2 linked regions of the Homo sapiens genome follow. The protein of the gene in region 1 interacts with the protein of each later gene in a pairwise test. Each region holds a gene or a part of one and is shown in the gene's direction. Other genes may lie near its edges.

What was found. The genes of interacting proteins can lie anywhere in the genome.
Region 2: the proteins of FGF14 (region 1) and FUNDC2 interact in binary tests that used the Homo sapiens proteins (3 or more experiments, as listed by UniProt).

Annotation. Positions count from the first base shown.
Region 1 is NC_000013.11:101,910,435-101,914,090, reverse strand, and holds part of FGF14 (fibroblast growth factor 14), read left to right. Parts: intron 1-3,656. UniProt on the Homo sapiens protein: Probably involved in nervous system development and function.
Region 2 is NC_000023.11:155,029,789-155,033,444, forward strand, and holds part of FUNDC2 (FUN14 domain-containing protein 2), read left to right. Parts: intron 1-3,614; coding exon 3,615-3,656. UniProt on the Homo sapiens protein: Binds directly and specifically 1,2-Diacyl-sn-glycero-3-phospho-(1'-myo-inositol-3',4',5'-bisphosphate) (PIP3) leading to the recruitment of PIP3 to mitochondria and may play a role in the regulation of the platelet activation via AKT/GSK3B/cGMP signaling pathways.

The DNA of each region.
Region 1 (3,656 bases):
TATTAAAGATACAACCTTTAAGTCTGATGGTTTTATATGTCTTTATAGCTGAAAATAATATAACAATTATTGAATCTTTACAATCTGTTAGGCTCTGTAGCAGGTATTATATATACATACAGCAGTGAATAGAAGAGTTGAAGTTCCTGCCATCATGGAGCTCACAAACATGGGGTAGAGAGTCATTGCCTATGGAAAGGAACAAATTAATAAGAAATAATAAAATTCAAAGTCCTATAAAGCATGAAGAGAGCTGGGATAAAGAATTATGGAGGAGAGAGGGGTGGGGAGAGGGATCTAATTAGATAAAGTAGTCAGGGTGGGCAACACTGGGATCCACAGGTTGAGAGATGACAGGTAAGAAGGATGCAGAGATTTTAAGAGCAGGTAGAAAAAGCAATGTGTGTGCAGAGACCTTGAGGTGGAAAAAATATTGTCCCATTGGGAGAAAAAAAAGAGGCATAGAAATTTTAAGCACATTGTCAAGTAGAATATAGTGTGATATGCTTGAAAACAGAATAAAGAATAGCTCCACATTTTGTGTTTTGGGGAAGGGTAATACACATTTTTGAAATGTAGGGTTTTAAAAAATCCTTTATTAAGTAGTAATTTATTTAATGTAAAGATTATTGAGTTGGAGCCCTACACCCACACTCTTTCCTATCTCCATCACCCCTACCCCTATAGAAGAGTGATGTTTATACCAGTTGACTTACTCTTGTGAAGGACAGAAATTTGCAAGATGGCTATTAATGGTGTGGTAGGCAGCATGACTGCAACCCACCTTTCCAGATTCAGCTCCATCTACCCTCCACCGACCTCCACAGATTTCAAACACAATACAATGCCACACACCCCGCAAATTAGTCATATGCTTTCAAATCCTTATCCTTTTGTTTGTGCTTTACTGTGTGTCTAGCATCTTCTCCTCACTTCTACATTCACCTGTTGAAATTATGAAATTATTCTCATTTTGAAAAGCTGAGAGAAAATGCCATCTCCTCTGAGAAGCCTTCATTTATTGGATACAATTAAAAATAATTCTCCTGTGGTATTTCATACGTCACTGTTGTTGTTTATATATACCTGATAATAATTAATTAAGTATACATATTCAGCTGATTGTAGGGAAGAAGCAAAGTCTGTGTTTTCTGCATCTTCATAGGCTCTCAAATCTTGAGAGTGTTTGCCATACACTGGGTTCTCCTCATTGCCCTTGGATTGGAGTGAAATAAGGAAGGTTAATAGGCCCAAGCTAAAAAAGAAAGTATCCTTGAACCAGAGTGATCTAACTAGATAATTTTAGACATAAAAATACTTTTCAAATTTTATACCTTTTTTACTTTCCCTAAATAAATATAATTATATCTTTTTTTAAGAGAATTAGAGGGATTACATATTTGTGGGTTATTTATAAGAATGCAAGAACATAAACAACCTCATTTTAAAGCTTAACTAATATATGAACAAAGATATTTACATATATTGATTTAGCCAAAGAAAGGGGAATTTACAAGGAAATCAACAGTTTGCAAATAGTTTTATTATTTGGAATCTTAACAAAAATGAAAACTAAAGTAGCCACTGACTACAATGGTGTATAATGAACATTGTATCCCCAAAAGTGTTATGTTTTTATTATGAATTTTTCAATCAAACAAGAACCATAATTGTTCACAGGATAATAACCTTTCTAAATCTTTGGCATGGCTGCTAATGCAGTTGTTTCTTGAGATTTACTTTTTTGGGGCTGTGATCATGAGAGCTATGGTATTATGTGCCATGTATGCTTAATCAGCAGGTGCCTGGGCTTCTTACTAACATTTTAACTAAAATAAATTACAGTATGTATAAGGAATGGAAAGTGAGGTACTTAAAATGTGTTTTCAAGTTAATGCATAATATAAAAAGCAGAAATGCATGTACACCTATAGAAATAAACTGCTTTGCTCCAGTGTGATAGTGAAATCCATCAGTTATTCTAAGAAAAGTGTCCTTCCTTCTTACAAGGTGCTATGTAAGGAAACAAGTGTCTACCGTCTCAGAAAATAATCCACAGCAAATAGTCATCAAAAAAAAAAAAAAACACTGTTTTTGTGCGCTACTGTTTTAGTGTCATTACCATGTGCTCATACAAAGACCACATGCTTGTTTGTTTTGGCTGTTTTGGCTAAACTAAAACAAGGGAACATTTTTCTTCAAAGCACTTTTTATTTTTTGGAAGATATTTTCTCTTTGGTGTTGGTTTTCTAAGGCCATACCCATTGGAGTCTTACTACATATTAATACCTGTTGCTAACTTTTTGATAATTATAATTTTATTATTTGTTAGTTGTATTAAGGTTAGATCAAATTATGGTCTTCTAAATTAAAATGTTGAGTTTTGTTTTGTTTTGTTTTTAACAAGGGACATACTATAAATGCAATTTCTAAGCAGGGAATCTTATGAGAATATTACCAGATTGGTCAATGAAATAATGTTAGAGACAAAAAAGGCATTCATTGTTTATGCATTTTCCTCCTGTGGCTTAATTGTTATGATTTCACAGTCCATATTTGCTATAGGTTTCTGAAAATGTTTAATACCTCAGTAGTTCAATAAGTAAAGTGTAAAATAGTGTAACAGATTAGGTATAATGTAATTAAACATAAAGAAGATGGTTTGCTTTGGGTTTAGTTATATCCATAGATTGAGTTGAGTTTACATATATTAATAATCTATGGCCAACTGTCTGGTGAAGAAATCCTGTGACCTTTCCTAACAAGATTTCAGATACACAAAACCTTCTGTCCCAAAGTTACCGTAATCAATTACGGGCTTCACTTCACATTTTGAATTTGAATACTTTTACATTTAGCCCCAAACTTGTGATTTTTGTTAGTAATTCCATTCTCTATGATGTTACTGTGAGAACAAGTATTTTCAAACCCAACAAGAACCTCCCTTCTCTTTGGTGTAAAGTTACGTCTTCTAAATTTTATTTATTTAAATTTTTTTAAATGGTAGAAATTTAAAAGGAAAGGTTTCTAAATATGATTTATCCACTTAGTTATGGAATTCTATATTTTTCTTAGATATAATTTATATTAATGTCTCCCCAAATGTTGAGAAACTTTAGCCAAAGAGGACTATGATATTTAGATAATACAAATGTTATATAATATTTCAAATATTGTTTTAGCACCCAACAACTAAAACACACACACACACACACACACACACACACACACACACACACACACACACACACACGAATCCAAATCTCTAAGAGACCATTTCAGAGACGTCAATGCAATTTAAAGCCAGTTACAGTGTTTGCATTAGAAAACAACTAATTTCATAGTTTTGGTCTATAATGGTCCAGCATTCAATTTAAGAAACTCAGATCACATGAAAATGTCACCATTTGCTGTTTACTGGGGTGACAGTATACCAGTAGGCATGCGTAGAAATGCAGACACAGTGTCTACACCATTTTATGATAGGTACTACTTTGTCATTCAGAAAAATGTCTCCTTTCATAAAATTAAATTTTGTAATTTATTTTGTGGAATGTATGTTTCTCCCTATGATTTTATGGTTTTTGATATTGGGATTGATAGGAACCCATACGGCATCACCATAGGGAAGGGCCACTTCAAAGTCATTGTCTCAC
Region 2 (3,656 bases), on another chromosome or scaffold:
CTTTTTAATTGAGATTGTATTGAATATATAGATCAATATATGGAGAGAATGAACATCTTAAAAATATTGAGTCTTGCAAAACATAAACAGTATATCACTGTTATTTTAGGTCATCTTCAATTTCTTGGCAGTGTTTTGTAGTTTGCAGTGTTTTCTAGTTTACAGTGAACAGGTCTTGTGCATCTTTCATTGAATTTACTACAACATAATTTTTGCAATTAAAATTATTTTGTTTTCCAATTCATCATTTCTAATACACAAAAATTCAAATGACTTTTTAATATTGGTCTTATAATGTGTGACCTTGCTTCTGGTACCTTTTTGTAGATTTTTCTGGGTTTTCTATATACACCGTTATATTATCTGCCAATGAAGACAGAATTATTGTTGTACCTCCTTTCTAATCTCTTTGACTTTTATTTCTTTTCTTTTGTTGCACTGGCTAGGAACTCCAGTACAGTGCTGGGCGAGGTGGCTCACACTTGTAATCCCAGCACTTTGGGAGGCTAAGGAGGGAGGATCACTTGGGGCCAGGAGTTCCAGACCAGCCTAGGCAACAAAGTGAGACCTCCTGTCTACAAAAAAAAAAAAAAAAAAAAAAAAATCAGTTGGTCATAGTGGTGCACAGCTGTAGTCCAGCTACTGGGGAGGCTGAGGTGGGAGGATTGCTTGAGCCCAGAAGTTTGAAGTTGCAGTAATCTGTGATAGTGCCACTGCACTCCAATGTGGGTGATAGAGTGAGACCCTGTCTCAAAACAAAACAAAAAACAGTTGAATAGATTTTAGGGAAAGAAAAGTGTTCCATATTTCACCATTAAGTATGATGTTAGTTGTATATTTTTCATAGATGTCCTATATCAGATTGAAGAAATCCCTTTCTATTCCTATTTTCTACTTTTTTTTTTTTTTTTTTTGAGATGGAGTTTCGCTCTTGTTGCCCAGGAAAATGGGCAGTGGTCTGATCTCGGCTCACTGCAACCTCCGCCTCCCAGGTTCAAGCAATTCTCCCATCTCAGCCTCCTGAGTAGCTGGGATTACAGGCGCCTGCCACTATGCCCGGCTAATTTTTGGTATTTTTAGTAGAGACGGGGTTTTACCATGTTGGCCAGGCTGGTCTCGAACTCCTGACCTCAGGTGATCCACCCGCCTCGGCCTCCCAAAGTGCTTGGATTATAGGCATGAGCCACCACGCCCAGCCCCTATTTTCTACTTTTTATTCTGATTTTTTTCTTTGATTTTAAAGTATAAAATTTCTGTAATTATTATTTTTTTACAGTAAGTATTCATTTAGATTTATCCACCTATTTGCCCATTCCAGTGTCTCATTCCTTTCTGCATTTCCATATTTCCATGTGGCATCATTTCTTGTCGGCCTGAATAACTTTTGTGTACCTCTTTGAATATTACTTCTATCCCATTCTTTCTAATCTTCTGGAACTCCAATTACATATATGTTTAATCTTTTGAGCAGTTTTTGATCATTGTTATTTGCTTACTTCAGCATCTTGATCATCACTGGTTCTGTTTCTGTTTCTGTTTCTTTTTCTTTTTTCTTTTTGGGACTGAGTCTCGCTGTGTCACCCATGCTGGAGTGCAGTGGTGCGATCCTTGGCTCACTGCAACCTTCGCTACCCGCGTTCAAGTGATTTTCCTGTCCCAGCCTCCCGAGTAGCTGGGACTACAGGCACATGCCACCACGCCCAGCTAATTTTTGTATTTTTAGTAGAAACAGGGTTTCACCATGTTGGCCAGGCTGGTCTTGAACTCCAGACTTCAAGTGATCCGTCCCCCAGGCTTTCCAAAGTGCTGGGATACAGGCGTGAGCCACCGTGCCTGGCCTGCTTCTATTTCTTTTATTTAAACAAATTTTGTTTCCTTTATATGGCTTTGCCTTTGCATGGGTAGTAGTCATTTTCTATTGTTTGTTACATTATGTGTGAAAAGATTGTACACACTCCATGCCAGATGAAGTTGATCATTTGAGGTCAATTTTACAGTAAACAGCTTTGAATAGTACATTGCTGACATTTCATATCAGACATTTCTTAGTGCGGTGTGTTTCCAGGGAAACAGGGCTGGGTATAGTAGGGGAGCCTGACATTATCTTCCCACAGAGAAAGGGATTGACATTTTGTTAAGTCTTTCTCCATGCTTGGGCAAATCATTTAACTTTGGAACCTTCATTTCATTTTTTTTTTTTTTCTGAGACGGAGTTTCACTCTTGTTGCCCAGGCTGGAGTGAAGTGGCGCGATCTCGGCTCACTGCCACCTCCACCTCCCCGGTTCCAGTGATTCTCCTGCCTCAGCCTCCCAAGTAGCTGTGATTACAGGCGCATGCCACCATGCCCAGCTAATTTTTGTAGTTTTAGTAGAGACGAGGTTTCACCATGTTGGCCAGGCTGGCCTCAAACTCCTGACCTCAGGTGATCTGCCCACCTTGGCCTCCCAAGGTGTTGGGATTACAGGCGTGAGCCACCACGCCTGGTGCCTTCTTTTTTTTTTTTTTTTTTTTTTTGAGATGGAGTCTCATTCTTGTTGCGCAGGCTAGAGTGCAGTGGTGCGATCTTGGCTCACCGCAACCTCTGCCCCTCAGGTTCAAGTGATTCTCCTCCCGAGTAGCTAGGATTACAGGCATGTGCCACCACCCCCGGCTAATTTTGTATTTTTAGTAGAGATGGGGTTTTTCCATGCTGGTCAGGTTGGTCTTGAACTCCCGACCTCAGGTGATCCACCTGCCTCCGGCCTCCCAAAGTGCTGGGATTACAGGTGTGAGCCACCATGCCTGGCCTTCATTTCTTAATTATAAAATTGAGTTAATAAGTAGTACCTACCTTATTCTGTGGATTAATTAGATGTACATGATTAATGTTTAGCACATTGCCTGGTAAATAGTAAGAGCTCAATTAAACATTACCCTCTCATCTTCATTATCACTGGAGATCCACGTAGTACTTAGAAAATTTGTGGATTACTGAATAGCATTGAGCTACTTCTGAAGAGAAGGGGCAAATTTGTTTCATTTGGGATGCATTACTGGCAGTTTTTTATAGGTCTTTTTGGATTTATTTATTTATTTGAGATGGAGTCTTGCTCTGTTGCCCAGGCTGGAGTGCAGCGGCACTATCTCGGCTCACTGCAACCTTTGCTTCCTGGGTTCAAGCAATTCTTTTGCCTTAGCCTCCTGAGTAGCTGGGATTACAGGTGCCTGCCACCACGCCTGGCTAATTTTTGTATTTGTAGTAGAGATGGGGTTTTGCCATTTTGGCCAGACTGGTTTCGATCTCCTGACCTCAGGTGATTCGCCCACCTCGGCCTCCCAAAGTGCTGGGATTACAGGCGTGAGCCACCGCGCCCAGCCTTTTTTGTTATTTTTAAATTTGAGAGGACAAACTAGAGGACTAATTTGAGATTTTCTAGGTTTTTCCCTGTAATATAGACATTAGTATTTGCTGATTTTAGTCTGATTTTCCAAAATTGCAACTTAGAATAAATTTACTATTTAAAATAGAATATTTGGAGGTTTCTTATTACATTTATGTCTGTTTCTTTAAATATCTCAATCTAGTTAGGTATAAAAGTAAATATTTTCTTATTTAACGTATTACTTCTTGTAGGAAACTTTGAGGGAAATTTTGAGTCACTGGACCTTGCGGAAT